Linked DNA regions of Homo sapiens. The protein of the gene in region 2 purifies or fractionates together with the protein of the main gene of each other region. This does not show direct contact. Each region holds a gene or a part of one and is shown on either strand. Other genes may lie near its edges.

The links. Proteins that work in one complex are often made in the same cells at the same time.
Region 1: the proteins of CMTR1 (region 2) and CPSF6 purify together in Homo sapiens (affinity purification with mass spectrometry, with the first as the bait; one large-scale study listed by BioGRID). This does not show direct contact.
Region 3: the proteins of CMTR1 (region 2) and RPL21 purify together in Homo sapiens (affinity purification with mass spectrometry, with the first as the bait; one large-scale study listed by BioGRID). This does not show direct contact.
Region 4: the proteins of CMTR1 (region 2) and ABCF1 purify together in Homo sapiens (affinity purification with mass spectrometry, with the first as the bait; one large-scale study listed by BioGRID). This does not show direct contact.

Annotation. Positions count from the first base shown.
Region 1 is NC_000012.12:69,245,790-69,249,637, reverse strand, and holds part of CPSF6 (cleavage and polyadenylation specificity factor subunit 6), read right to left. Parts: intron 1-3,848. UniProt on the Homo sapiens protein: Component of the cleavage factor Im (CFIm) complex that functions as an activator of the pre-mRNA 3'-end cleavage and polyadenylation processing required for the maturation of pre-mRNA into functional mRNAs.
Region 2 is NC_000006.12:37,460,699-37,464,546, reverse strand, and holds part of CMTR1 (cap-specific mRNA (nucleoside-2'-O-)-methyltransferase 1), read right to left. Parts: intron 2,999-3,848; coding exon 2,902-2,998; intron 2,578-2,901; coding exon 2,445-2,577; intron 1,719-2,444; coding exon 1,539-1,718; intron 1-1,538. UniProt on the Homo sapiens protein: S-adenosyl-L-methionine-dependent methyltransferase that mediates mRNA cap1 2'-O-ribose methylation to the 5'-cap structure of mRNAs.
Region 3 is NC_000013.11:27,254,279-27,257,137, reverse strand, and holds the end of RPL21 (large ribosomal subunit protein eL21), read right to left. Parts: coding exon 2,857-2,859; intron 2,075-2,856; exon of another isoform or gene 2,003-2,074; intron 1,897-2,002; coding exon 1,784-1,896; intron 1,738-1,783; exon of another isoform or gene 1,612-1,737; intron 955-1,611; coding exon 804-954; intron 703-803; coding exon 613-702; 3' UTR 570-612; downstream 1-569.
Region 4 is NC_000006.12:30,577,663-30,581,510, forward strand, and holds part of ABCF1 (ATP-binding cassette sub-family F member 1), read left to right. Parts: intron 1-155; coding exon 156-251; intron 252-413; coding exon 414-540; intron 541-685; coding exon 686-723; intron 724-807; coding exon 808-915; intron 916-2,268; coding exon 2,269-2,343; intron 2,344-2,743; coding exon 2,744-2,857; intron 2,858-3,848. UniProt on the Homo sapiens protein: Isoform 2 is required for efficient Cap- and IRES-mediated mRNA translation initiation. Isoform 2 is not involved in the ribosome biogenesis.

The DNA.
Region 1 (3,848 bases), on a different chromosome or scaffold from region 2:
TAAGTACTTGTATTGGTGTGAACCATTTTATTCTTATGACATAGAACATCTGACATAAGGAAAAAGACAATTATAAGACAACCTGAAAGTTCAGACGTAACTTACAGATTCTCCCATTAATACAATTTACTAAAGAATTATACAAATGGCACATATGGAGGAGCTAATGGTTTTAGGGACTATTAGCCAAAATAGTCCCTAAATGGATAGAATGACCCAGAGAAAAGCATTTGTTATATGATGGTAAACAGAGCAACAAGATATTATGGGCCCAGGCTACTGTTTTGCTATTTAAAGGAGAGCCAGAATAAGATCTTTTATTTATTTTGTATTTTTTTAATTTTAATTTTTATTTATTTATTTTTTTGAGACGGAGTCTTGCTCTGTCGCCCAGGCTGGAGTGCAGTGGCGCAATCTCGGCTCACTGCAAGCTCCGCCTCCTGGGTTCACGCCATTCTCCTGCCTCAGCCCCCCCCCCCCCCCCCGAGTAGCTGGGACTACAGGCGCCCGCTACCTTGCCCAGCTAATTTCTTGTATTTTTTGTAGAGATGGGGTTTCACCGTGTTAGGCAGGATGGGTTAGCCAGGATGGTCTTGATCTCCTGACCTCGTGATCCGCCCGCCTCGGCCTCCCAAAGTGCTGGGATTACAGGTGTGAGCCACCACACCCGGCCGAGAATAAGATCTTTTTAAAAGAAAAAGAAAAAAGCCTAGTAGGGGAAATATCATTTATATTCCTAAATAAAGGGACCTCAAGTAATCATCAGGTAATCGTTTATGTAATTAATGACTTATCCAATTTACTAGTTACAGAATCTTTACATACCAATTTTACTTGTTACGAGGTAGAATGTCTATAAGACTTATTTAATAAGGGGTCTGGGATCTCAAGGTTAAATCAGAGAACAAAGCTAAATTTAACAAAGGGCAGAAACTAAGACCACAAGTCACTGAATAATGCCATAATTTTATTCTGTTTGTACAGCAATACTAAAATAATCTTTAAGAAATGAGTTTTTGTTAAACAAAGTAACATGCTCAAATTGCAATGACCACAGAAATTAGGAAAAAAGAGGGTAAGTTTTGTTATGAAGTTTCAGTGTGGCTGAAGCTTCAGGCGGTGTGGCTGCAGCAGTAGTTCCATGCACTTAAGATACTAAAAAGTTTCCCACAAGGGGTGTTGGGCACTTTAAACTCTCTTGCAATCCGGTTCTGAACATCAAGTAGAATTACTAATATTATTCAAAGGGAGTTGAGTTTCCATCCTCCTCAGCAGAAACTATAATCACAATATATGGTCTGAGGGAAAGTAAAAAAGAATGGAAGGGTTATTAACAGCAGGACTAAATGTATTTTTAAATTTACACTTTCACTTACATAAATAGGTGAACAGATTCTTTGTTTTCTTCTATTAGCTACAAACCTGTGAAAATGTTTACATAAGTAGACAAAAAATTTACAAGCATAATTGCAGCTACACTAACCTGGTATATCACAATCACTTACTATTTTTGTCCATCCATGAATTCCTATGTTGACACAAACCAATTTTCCACATTGATATGATTCTACCAATATTTAGGATCAGCCATTTTGTCTGGTAGTTGTACTGCTTCCAAGTGGTTGTAGTACGATCCTAATTAAGACCATGGTCCTGGGGTTTGATCTCCATGTGGACTAGTTAGCTTCTCTCTGTTCCAAGGCCACAGCCTGTACACTTAGCCCCAATGGTATACATTTAAACTTTGTGAAAAAACATAATGAATCTGAATACATTTGCTGCCATTACTAAAAATGAAACTCAAAGCACACTCTTTTGTAGTTATCAGTAACCTTCCTTTTAATCAGCTTCATATCACATCAATCCTCCAGCGTAAAAAAAAATACAGAACATACTGAACTTTGTTCTTACTTCATAAAGTGAGAAAATATGCATGATGTTTGCATGAGAAATTATGCAAAATGTATATCACAGGTCATATATAAATAAAGCTCTGTGAGCCTACTGAACAGACTAAAAAAAAGGTTTCCAGTTTGTCAAAGAAATATTTCACGGTATCATTTTTTATTACATGAAGGGTCTTTTCAATTATTACTTTTAATTTTAATGGCATTCAAAAAACAAGAAAATATCAACATCATTCCTCTAATTATCTTTGATACCAAATGTTGCCCAATCTTATCTGCTGTTCATAGTAGCTAGCCAGCTATGTTACATAAAGCTTGGAATAAACAACAGCTCTTAGGGTTTGTTTAAAAAAAAAAAAAACTCACTAATTTTTTTCATTCCCTACCATTCTAAATCACTACAATCATTCTTTAGACAAGGTATTCTCTCAACATTTTACACAACAAGATTATGCTCCACATGATATACAAATATCTGTTGCCAAGCCAGAGAAAATGGATGGCAAAATGACCAAAATCCTATTAGTTCCCTTAAAGTATGGCTTCTCAACCTTTTCATTATCCCTGTCTCCTCCCTCCCTTCAAGAAGTTACTTTTAGACATTTTTTCCCTAATTACCCCTCTTACAATTTTAATATCACAGATATACGATACATACTGTATACCACTATTGGGATGAACTTGTTGGCTGTCAAAATATTCATCATTCTCCCTGACAGGCCTGATATTTTTTTGATGGTTCTAAAATTACAGTAATATCATTCGAGGCTAGGCATGGTGGTTCATGCCTGTTAATCCCACCACTTTGGGAGGCCAAGGCAAGAGGATCCCTTGAGCCCAGGAGTCTAAGACCAGCCTGGGCAACTTAGGAAGATCCCATCTCTACCATAAAAATACATAAATACATACAAAATTCGTGCATTATATGATACTATCAGTAAATGCACAGCAAAGGCCACTTGTTTCAAAGCCTATTTTAAATTATTTCCATTTAGAGAAATATATGAAGGGGGGAAGTTACATTTTGCATTTACAAAATATATCCTATACCTCGGAAAAGAAATACTAGTATGCAAAATCCAATAGCAGATAACCTAATGCATACATTTTTAAAGAAAATATATCATTTTCTGGTTTTATCTAATTATGTTCTCAGTAGTTATTAAAACTGGCTAGTAATCCCTGTAAAAATCCCTTCCTTATATAATGGTAAGGAATTTGGTACTAAAAATATGCCACATAAACCATAGTGGACAATTCACAGGCAACTAAATTAACTGCACCCATAAATAACAAAATAGAGAAGAGTTCTAGCTTCCCTGAACATTTCTATCCATTTTTCTGAATCAATTCTACCTAGCTCATTCTCAACCTGACAGCTTTATTTCAGATGGTTTTCTAGTAAACATAAATAAATCATAAACAATGTTTCTCTGATATTTGTCCAAGAAATTTATTTTCATTAATTGGCTCAACAATTGGCTAGAATACATACATAATGACTGAACGTAAAGCAAAATGATTCATGACATAAAAACTGACTTATCGGATGTCCAGGTCCGTAACTCCTAAGTGAATTCTTTGTTCCAACTACTGCCTCTATACACCTCCATTCTTTTAAAAGTAATTAATCTATTTTTGTGTGTGACAAAGTCTCGTTCTGTCACTCAGGCTGGAGTACAGTGGCCTGATCTCAGCTCACTGCAGCCTCTGCCCCCCAGGTTCAAGCAATTCTCCTGCCTCAGCCTCTGAAGTAGCTGGAATTACAGGTGTGCACTATCATACCTGGCTAAATTTTGTATTTTTAGTAGAGACAGGGGTTTCGCCATGTTGGCCAGGCAGGTCTCAAACTCCTGACCTCAAGTGATCCGCCTACTTCAGCCTCCCAAACTGCTGGAATTATAGGCATGAGCCACCGCACCTGGCCTACACTTCCATTTT
Region 2 (3,848 bases):
TACTTTGGGGCTGCCTGAGTAGGGGCATAAGAAAATTTCCTTAGGTGATGGAAACGTTTTTTATCTTTTTTTTTTTTTTTGAGATGGAGTCTTCCTCTGTCGCCCAGGATGGAGTGCAGTGGCGCGATCTCGGCTCACTGCAAGCTCTGCCTCCTGGGTTCACGCCATTCTCCTGCCTCAGCCTCCCAAGTGGCTGGGACTACAGGCGCCCGCCACCACGCCTGGCTAATTTTTTTTGAATTTTTAGTAGAGATGGGGTTTCACCGTGTTAGCCAGGATGGTCTCGATCTCCGGATCTCGTGATCCATCTGCCTCAGCCTCCCAAAGTGCTGGGATTACAGGTGTGAGCCACTACGCCCGGCCACATTTTTTATCTTAATAGGGATGTAGGCTACAAGGATATATGCATTTGTAAACTGATTATACACTTAAGATTTGCATTTCACTTACAGAATTATACCTCAACTTTTTTAGAAAAAGAAAAGTGGCTGGTTATAGAGTTGCTTAAACACTCTGTGTTATTGGAACCCCTGAAAAGAATTCCAGTTCTGCCATGCATCTATGCACACTTGTTCAGCCAAAAGACATGTTCCATAACCCAGAAGTGTTACAAAGCCCTAGCCAGGCGGGTCGCTGGGCCTGTTTGCTTCCTCATCTATAACATGCTGAAGTTTACTGTCTGCTCCACCTTGGTGCCTACCATTGCTATCAAAATGAGGGCGCTTATATGGCAGTACTGTGGAAAGTTAAAACACCAGGCAATACTGGAAAAATAGGAGAGAATAGGATAAAGACTTCCTCCCCTTCTATGATTCTCCAGGGCCACCTCTATCTTCAAACTTCTCTGGGGGACTTAAGGTTGGACCCTTAACTAAGGCCTTTCCAACACCTGTTTAGCCCCCTAAGAGAGCATTTTCTATTGAATCACTACTACTATACAACCCTCCAGCCTATCTCCAAACACTTTTTTCAAAGGCCTGCCCACTGAGAAAACTAAGCCAAATGTCACAACTTTAAATTATTACCACTAACAGGGAGTGGGGAAAACAAAGAAGATACAGAAAACAGCATTTGGATCACCAGCTGGGGAACTCATGAAGAAATGGCAAAAGTTTGGGCACTTCCAAAGCATGTTGTACACATGCTTTCCATCCATCTCCTGCCTCCAAACAGGGACTTCACCAGGCAACAAGCATGATGGCCTTTTACAAACAGCAGCAATTAAAGGGAAATTACTCCTGCCTCCAGGGACACAGGCTGCTCTGTCAGCTTTCACTGTTATACACAGGCTCCTGCAGGCAGGCCTATACTAGCCAGGCACCTACCTGCCACCCTTGGGATAGGGCATGGCAGCAGGATGGGGGTCCCTGAGGGTAACTAACCAAAGTCCCAGGGAGCCCTGAAACCAGCAGACCAAACCCAGTTGCCAATTTGTCAGGGTTGACAAAGTGATACCAAGAGCCAACCATTCAGTCTTTCACTCTCTGGTCTTCCTTAGGACCTCAGTGTTACCAGCAAAAACCAGCCCGTTGGCTTACCTCTCATTGGACCGTATCATGTAGTCAGTAAATTCATGGTCTCCCTTGATCACCTCCAGGGGGACCACCAAGTTGACGTCGGAATCCGTGTTCCGCAGCTGATTGAGTTTAATATTCACTGCGAAGAGGTAATCCCGAACATCATCTATGCCCACCTTCAGGCCCTTGCACACCACATACCTGGCAGAAGATACTCTGTCACTCCACCGAGCAAGGGCTTCCTCCCCATACATTCCTTTTCCCCCAACCCCTTGTGGAATCACAAAGCTTAATGGCTTCCCTGTTCAACCTTAGGCCTACGCACAAAGAACAACACAGACCCTTTGTGGTGCTAAAGTTCCCCTCAAATCCTTCTCTGTTGAGCTCTATTTCTACTCTCTATCGCAGTAGTTCCTAACTTCCCTGTGACAGACGGGCTGTGTCACAATCACCTGGGGAGTCTGTTAAATTATAGACCTAATGAATCAAACTCTCCCAGGAGAAGGCCCAGAAATATGTGTTTGTAACAAAGCCACCGGGCAATTCTGATTGGTTGCATTTTCTCTCACCTTGTGTGTGGGCAGTGTCACACTGGGACCCCAGTAGTGCCTCTGGATAGCGGCTCCTTGCCCCTTCCCAGCCCAAGACCCCTGAAGTGTCCCTACTATTGGTCACTTTCTCCTTGGCCAAGCTGAGAATCCCTCACATAAGCATGGAGCATAAGGCTTGGAAGAAGGAGGCAGAGGCTGAACTGGCATATCACAAGACCAAAAGATCCAGGAATCCTGAATCCTGTTGGCTCTCATCACTTCTTTAAAGTCAAGGTTTTAAACGTAGCTTAAGAGGTCATGCCAGAGAGATGCACCATGATTTGCTGTTCTGACATTTAGCCAATTAATCTGGCTAATATAGAGAGAAAGGCTTCACCTCTCTGAGTTGGCAGGACGGCTGGTAATAGGCTTGAAGAGACAAACTCGTTCAAAGCAGCAGTACAGCAGGTAGACAAGCCCCACACTAAACGGTGTGAACAGGTCAAAGGTTTTACAGATGAAGTGGCCTCCTAGATTAGAGAGAAAACACCAAAAGCAGCCAATGGGTCTATTCCAAGAGATGGGTGAAGTAGTCTTGGGAGTAAATATGACAAAGTCAAGGAAACCAGCACCTGGGTCTGTTAAAACTCAGAGACAATTTAAGGGGGAGAACCATCTTTGGAGGGGACTTTGAGGATTCCACAGCCCTTTCTTCCCTAAATTACTCATTTAGCTACCTGTCCTCTAATATAAGCAGATTTTTTTAACTTCCCCACCAACCCCTTGTACATGTTCTTGTCCAATAGGGCCTCTAAGTGGGTCCTGGGGTGAGGAGACAGCTGAGGAAGTGTCACCTGTCCGGACAATGGACAGCGCCATGAGGAACTGACACAGAAGCAGCTGCTTGCTGAGGATCTCCTGCAGGTTCTCCTGCCCCTCCACCGAGAAACCCTGAAATGAGAGCACAAGGAATGGGGTGGGAAAGAGAAAAGAGAAGGACTAAGAATAACATCACTACCTCATCTTCATCGAGAGTTCTTGAAGTGTTTTCACTGATCACCATCTGATTGATGAAGAAGCAGCTCAGTGTTGAGTTATTTTAGAAGGTCACTGGGCTTGTTAGATGGAGTAAGCACAGGACCCAGGCCTACTACTGGACCAGCTCCACTTTCCTGCTCTGTCATTCTCAGGGGATGGAACCAAGCCTGCTTTTCCAAGGAGATGGTTTAGAATGTGTTTTAACTCATGGGAATCCAGAGAAGAGTAAGGCAGAACAGAGGCAAAATATTGGCTAGTCAGAGGTCAACCACAACATAGGAAACAGAATGCTCTGGTGAGTCCTAACAAGACCAGGGAGTGAGTACAGTGAGAACACTCTGCTTCGGCTTCCCACTCTGGTGAAGGAGAAAAGTTAACTTTCCTAGTCACAGTAATCTCTCTCTGTTGACTCAGGTTTTACTTACAATACCCCCTTTCCTGTCCTAAGACCACGGTGCCTCTTGTATCCAGCTGGCAGACTCTCTGGCCAGGGTATTTACTGAAAGAATGTGTGATGCTATTTCTAGAGTGGTCTCCCTCCTTGTGAGATCCCAGCAGGAGACAGAGTCAGGCTTACATAAAAGTAAAGGAGGCCAGGGGACATCAGGTGGCACAGTGTTGTTAAATGGGTACAGTTTCTGTTTTGCAAAATGAAAACTTCTGAAAATCTGTTGCACAACAGTGTGAATAGACTTAACACTACTGTTAACACTTAAAAATGATTAAGATGATCAAATTTGTGTTTTTTACAATAAAATAAAGA
Region 3 (2,859 bases), on a different chromosome or scaffold from region 2:
AATAGATGACATCCCACTTATTTTTGTATGTTTTATTTGTCCTGGCACAGTAGCTCACACCTGTAATCCCAGCACTTTGGGAGGCCAAGGCAGGTGGATCACGAGGTCAGGAGTTTGAGACCAGACTTATAAACATGGTGAAACCCTGTCTCTACTAAAGATACAAAAATTAGCCAGGCGTGGTGGCACGCGCCTATAATCCCAGCTACTCAGCAGGCTGAGGCAGAATTGCTTGAACCCAGGAGGCAGATGTTGCAGTGAGCCGAGATCACACCATTGCACTCCAGCCAGGTTGACAGAGCAAGACTGTCTCAAAAAAAAAATATTTTATTTCTTCCTTGATGATTTAGAAGGACTATCTTCAAACCAGTACAAGTATTTCATATATAATACCTCGCCATTTTCTGAGTAATTTGTTGCACAATAAGCTACCTCATGTCCTTCAGCAAGAAATACATTAAATTTGAATAGCAAGGACATTACATAATGAATTAGGACACAACCAAAATTTGCTTTAAATATTTCTTTGGGGGAGAGGACACCACACTTCTACTCAATGAAGAGAAACATTTTTGTAGCCCAGAGGTCCTTTATTTTTTTTTTTAACACCTATTATGCCATGAATTCATAGGGAATAGGTTCCAGCAGCTCAGGCTCCTTCCCATTGGTTCTCACAAAGTGTGCTTCTCTGGGTGGAGCAGGCTATTAAAGGAAAAAAAAAGGGAATAAAATAATTATGTGATGTGTTAAATCTCAACCTTAAAGTGCTCTCAGAACCAATGAAATATACACCAAATTCTTACCTGGCGCTTTAGTTGAACCCAGGTACCTTTCTCTTTGGCTTCTTTCTTTTTCTGATCATTTTCCTTCACACGTTTCAGGAAGCTATCTCGGCTCTTAGAGTGCTTAATGTGCTCAATACGCACATTAATTCTCTTGGCAAGAATCTTGCCCCTGGACAGAGCAGAAATTCTTTTAAGTGCTTTAACAAAAATATAACAGAAATGTAGAAAACTGATTTTGCAGTTTCATTTATTAAATAAACCATAAACCTTTTACCCAGATATGACAAATCAACAAAGTATGCCTTGATTACTTAATTTACAATCAATTAATCATATCAGAAGAGGCCTTGCAGAGAACATCCCTACTTTTAACTCTCTTTGATGAGATGATGGTCTCTTAAACTCTAGTAATCTAAAACCAGACTGCTAATAAAATTTAAAAGTTTACTAAACTTCTCTTTTTATTCTATAAAAACTGCTGGGCCAGGCGCGGTGGCTCATGCCTGTAATCCCAGCACTTTGGGAGGCCGAGGCAGGCAGATCACGAGGTCAGGAGATTGAGACCATCCTGGCTGACACAGTGAAACCCTGTCTCTACTAAGAATACAAAAAATTTAGCTGGGCATGGTGGTGGGCGCCTGTAGTCCTAGCTACCCCAGAGGCTGAGGCAGGAGAATGGCGTGAACCCAGGAGGTGGAGCTTGCAGAGAGCAGAGATCCCACCACTGCACTCCAGCCAGGGCGACAGAGCAAGACTCCGTCTCGAAACAAAACAAACAAACCGCTTAGTAACTAACTGTGTAAGACTTTCCAGTAAATCTATTTCAATTTGTTTCCTCTGACAGGATACAGACAAACACCCAGTTTGCCTGAGTTTTAAAAGGATATTTCCTTTGCCCCACTTGAATGACCAATAAAGACATAAGTCCAACTGGCAAAGTGAAAAGGGGGTATATGAGGGAATACTGGTTAGCCACAAAGAACTACAACACTACTTACTTAACTTGTTTGTTTACAACAATGCCAACAGCATGCTGGGTAACATTGTAGACTCTTCCAGTTTTGCCATGGTAACACTTGTGGGGCATTCCTTTTTGAACAGTACCCATTCCCTATTAAAGAAACCAATGTTATATACCAGCATTTCCCCTTCCTTTAAAATTCTGACTTTAAGTAACTGCAAAGTATTCTAAGATTTCTTTCAAATGGCAACTCAAGAGCTTTCAGAGCCGGTGAAATGTGTTTTTCACATTGCTTCAAGCAATCAAAAAAAACAGTCATCATTAAGCTCGAGTGCCAAGATACATTTAAATCCAGGTCACAGAAGAACACAGCTTTCACTAGGAGGGTTTTTAATCATAGTAATAGTAATCTTCATCAATAATTAAACTTTGCACTAAGGCGTTCCTTTCCAACTTGATAAACTCATAATTTCCCACCCTACCACCCAATTTCCACTAGCTGTTAACTCCAAGCGGGTAATGAGGAAAATTTAAATTCTGCTAAGAATAGCACTTTAAAAAATCCATTCTAGGCCGGGCACGGTGGTTCACACCTGTAATAATCCCAGCACATTGGGAGGCTGAGTCCGGCGGATCACCCGAGGTGTTCAAGACCAGCCTGACCAACATGGAGAAACCCCTTCTCTACTAAAAATACAAAATTAGCCAGGAATCATGGTGCATGCCTGTAATCCCAGCACATTGGGAGGCTGAGTCCAGCAGATCACCCGAGGTGTTCAAGACCAGCCTGACCAACATGGAGAAACCACTTCTCTACTAAAAATACAAAATTAGCCAGGTATCATGGTGCACGCCTGTAATCCCAGCTATTTGGGAGGCTGAGGCAGGAGAACTGCTTGAATCCGGGAGGGAGGCGGAGGTTGAGGTGAGATCATGCCATTGCACTCCAGCCTGAGCAACAAGAGTGAAACTCCGTCTCCAAAAAAAAAAAAAAAAAAATCCATTCTATACTCTTACAGATGCAACATACACTAGTATTTGAATTCCTACACTAGATTAAATCCAACTTTTCTATCTTCTGTAGTGTTATTTTCCCAATTTTATGTTTACCTT
Region 4 (3,848 bases), 6.9 Mb from region 2:
TGCACACTCCATTCTCCACAAAAAGAAAAAAAAGAGAGAGACAGGAGGTAAGGTGAGGGTGGAGTGGAGGGCCAGTGGGCCAATGTGTGGCAGAGCACAGCCTGCTTGGATTGCTCTTGGAAACATGTTTACCTGTAGCTTAACTCCCTTTATAGTTCTTTGAAGAGCTGGCAGTAGAAGATAAACAGGCTGGGGAAGAAGAGAAAGTGCTCAAGGAGAAGGAGCAGCAGCAGCAGCAACAGCAACAGCAGGTACAAGTGCCACAGGGCCCACCAATCCTGGGAGGCATCTGGGTTCCACCAACCCCTTTCCAGCCCATGTTGCTCCATTCAGCTGATGGGGAACCCTCTGTGAGGCAGAAATACAGCAGGGGCCTGGGCTTCATTTTCTCACTGTTCTTTTGCTCTCAGCAGCAAAAAAAAAAGCGAGATACCCGAAAAGGCAGGCGGAAGAAGGATGTGGATGATGATGGAGAAGAGAAAGAGCTCATGGAGCGTCTTAAGAAGCTCTCAGTGCCAACCAGTGATGAGGAGGATGAAGGTAAATGACCTGAGGGGGAATGGGTACCTGGAATCCATGAGTCATGGAGAGTGATACCTCATACCCTGATCTTCAAGTTGGATTCAATTGGGGGGCCAGACATTGTAATTCTTTCCTATCTCATGTTCTCCCCCTGTCATTTCAGTACCCGCCCCAAAACCCCGCGGAGGGAAGAAAACCAAGGTAAGCCATCTGTGTGGTAAACGGAGACTCCAAGGATGCAACCTTGACCATCCTACTGACTTCTGTGGCCCTTTCATTCTCTAGGGTGGTAATGTTTTTGCAGCCCTGATTCAGGATCAGAGTGAGGAAGAGGAGGAGGAAGAAAAACATCCTCCTAAGCCTGCCAAGCCGGAGAAGAATCGGATCAATAAGGTGACAGTGGTGGCTCGATCAGTCACTCTCACTCCATTTAGCACCTTCTGGCCATGGTGGAGTAATTTCCCGCTTTTAAACTAGCTCTTCTCGGTCTGTCTTACTTATACTGTTAAAATCATCTTTTTAGAATACATGCCCAGGCTGGGCACAGTGGGTCACGCCTGTAATCCCAGCACTTTGGGAGGCCGAGGTGGGCGAATCACGAGGTCAAGAGATCGAGACCAGCCTGACCAACATGGCGAAACCTCATCTCTACTAAAAATACAAAAATTAGCCAGGCGTGGTGGCGTGCGCCTGTAATCCCAGCTACTTGGAAGGCTGAGGCAGGAGAATCACTTGAACTTGGGAGGTGGAATTTGCAGTGAGCTGAGATTGAGGCACTGCACTCCAGCCTGGGCAACAGAGCAAGACTCAGTCTCAAAAAAAAAACAACAAAAAAAACCATGCCATTTTTATCACTCAGAAATCTACAGTGATTCTGTTGCTTTAAGCACAGAACCTGAAACAAAGCCCCAGGTCCTTGCTCTTCTACTTGTGACTCTTCTGCGTGTGCATCTTAGTCCATGTCCATTTGAGCTCTTGAGAAAGCCTCCAGTGCTAGTGCCACTCACTCTGGTGGCGCACTTGCCTGACTTATAATCCTTAGCCTTGCTGACGTTCCCTAGTTATCTCTTCGCTATCTAGTCTGAAGCTGGAGGGTAGGGTTTTTCTGGGTCTCATTTTTCGTCAGCAGCACTCAATACAGATGGTCTCCAACTTCTGCTTCGGTGTACGATTTTTCTACTTTATGATGGTGTGAAAGTCATACTCATTTAGGGTACTCCTCAACTCATGATGGGATTATATCCAGATAAACCCATCATAAGTTGGAACTATTTTTTTTTTTTTTTTTTTTTGAGACGGAGTCTCACTCTGTTGCCAGGCTGGAGTGCAGTGGCGTAATCCTGGCTCACTGCAACCTCCGCCTCCCGGGTTCAAGTGATTCTCCTGCCTCAGCTTCCTGAGTAGCTGAGATTACAGGCACGTGCCACCACGCCCAGCTAATTTTTGTGTTTTTAGTAGAGACAGGGTTTCACCATGTTGACCAGGATGGTCTCGATCTCTTGACCTTGTGATCCACCTGCCTTGGCCTCCCAAAGTGCTGGGATTACAGGTGTGAGCCACCACGCCCGGCCAAGAACTATCATTTTTTATTTAAGTTTCTGGTGGGTTTATCGGGATGCAACCTGTCGTAAATGGAGGAGCATGTGTATGGTTAACACAGTAGACTCTCTAGAAATGCTTATTACACAGCAAAGTAGCACAATAATTTGTATGTATGTGTGTAATGTGTATGTGTGTCTCCTCCAGGCCGTATCTGAGGAACAGCAGCCTGCACTCAAGGGCAAAAAGGGAAAGGAAGAGAAGTCAAAAGGGAAGGCTAAGGTGAGAGAGTAACTAGCAGGAGGAGGTATTGGGGCCCAGGAATTAAAACATTTCATCAGGGCTGGGCGCGGTGGCTCACGCCTGTAATCCCAGCACTTTGGGAGGCCGAGGTGGGCGGATCACGAGGTCAGGAGATCGAGACCATCCTGGTAACACGGTAAAACCCCGTCTCTACTAAAAATACAAAAAAAATTAGCCGGGCGTGGTGGCGGGCGCCTGTAGTCCCAGCTACTCGGGAGGCTGAGGCAGGAGAATGGCGTGAACCCGGGAGGTGGAGCTTGCAGTGAGCCGAGATTGCGCCACTGCACTCCAGCCTGGGTGACAGAGCGAGACTCCGTCTCAAAAAAAAAAAAAGAAAAAAAAAAAAAACATTTCATCAGACCTGTCTTTTCCCTATTAGCCTCAAAATAAATTCGCTGCTCTGGACAATGAAGAGGAGGATAAAGAAGAAGAAATTATAAAGGAAAAGGAGCCTCCCAAACAAGGGAAGGAGAAGGCCAAGAAGGCAGAGCAGGTGTGTATTTGGTGTTGGGGCAAGGTGGAATGAGGGACTAGGGCTTCCAGGGTCCTTATGGGAGAGTTAGAATCTGGGGATATAGTTATTATCCCAGCAAACCTTTATTCTTTTCTTTTTTTGGGGGAGTAGTTGGGGTGGTGGTTCGTTTGTTTTTGTTTTTGTTTTTGTTTACACAGGATCTTACTCTGTCACTCAGGCTGGAGTGCAGTGGTGTGAACACGGCTCACTGAAGCCTCAACCTCCTGGGCTCAACAGATTCTCCTGCCTCAGCCTACTGAGTAGCTGGGACTACAAGTGTGCACCACTACCCCTGGCTAATTTTTTTATTTTTAGTATAGAGATGAGGTCTCACTATGTTGCTCAGGCTGGTCTTGAATTTCTGGGCTCAAGCAGTCCTCCTGCCTCAGCCTCCCAAAATGCTGGGTTTACAGGTGTGAGCCAGCATGCCAGCCAGCAAACTTTTTCTATAAAGGGCCATATAGTAAATGTTTTTGGCTTTGCAGGCCACATACAATCTCTATCACATATTCTTTTTTTTTTTTAACAACTCTTTGAAAATACAAAAATTATTTTTATAAAGTTCAGGAGCTATATAAAAATAAATGTCAGGTCAGCCTTGGCCCATGGGCTGTAGTTTGCAACACCTAATCCAGTGAAGAAAGGGCCTGGAATTTATCTCAGATGATCTGGGTCCTGGCTCTGCCTTCACTGGCTGTGTGACCTTGAATACATCTTCCCATCCCCTTGGGTCTCACTTGTCTCCTTTGTGTGATAGAAGGAGGAGTCCGGAGATCTCTAGGGTCCCTATGCGTCTGGCACTTCCTAATTCTGTGATTCTGCTGGATTCCTCTGACTGTGCACTAGAGCTTCCTGATCTTTTTTTTTTTTTTTTTTTTTTTGAGATGGAGTCTCACTCCGTTGCCCAGGCTGGAGTGCGGTGGCGCAATCTCAGCTCACTGCAACCTCTGCCTCCCGGGTTCAAGCAATT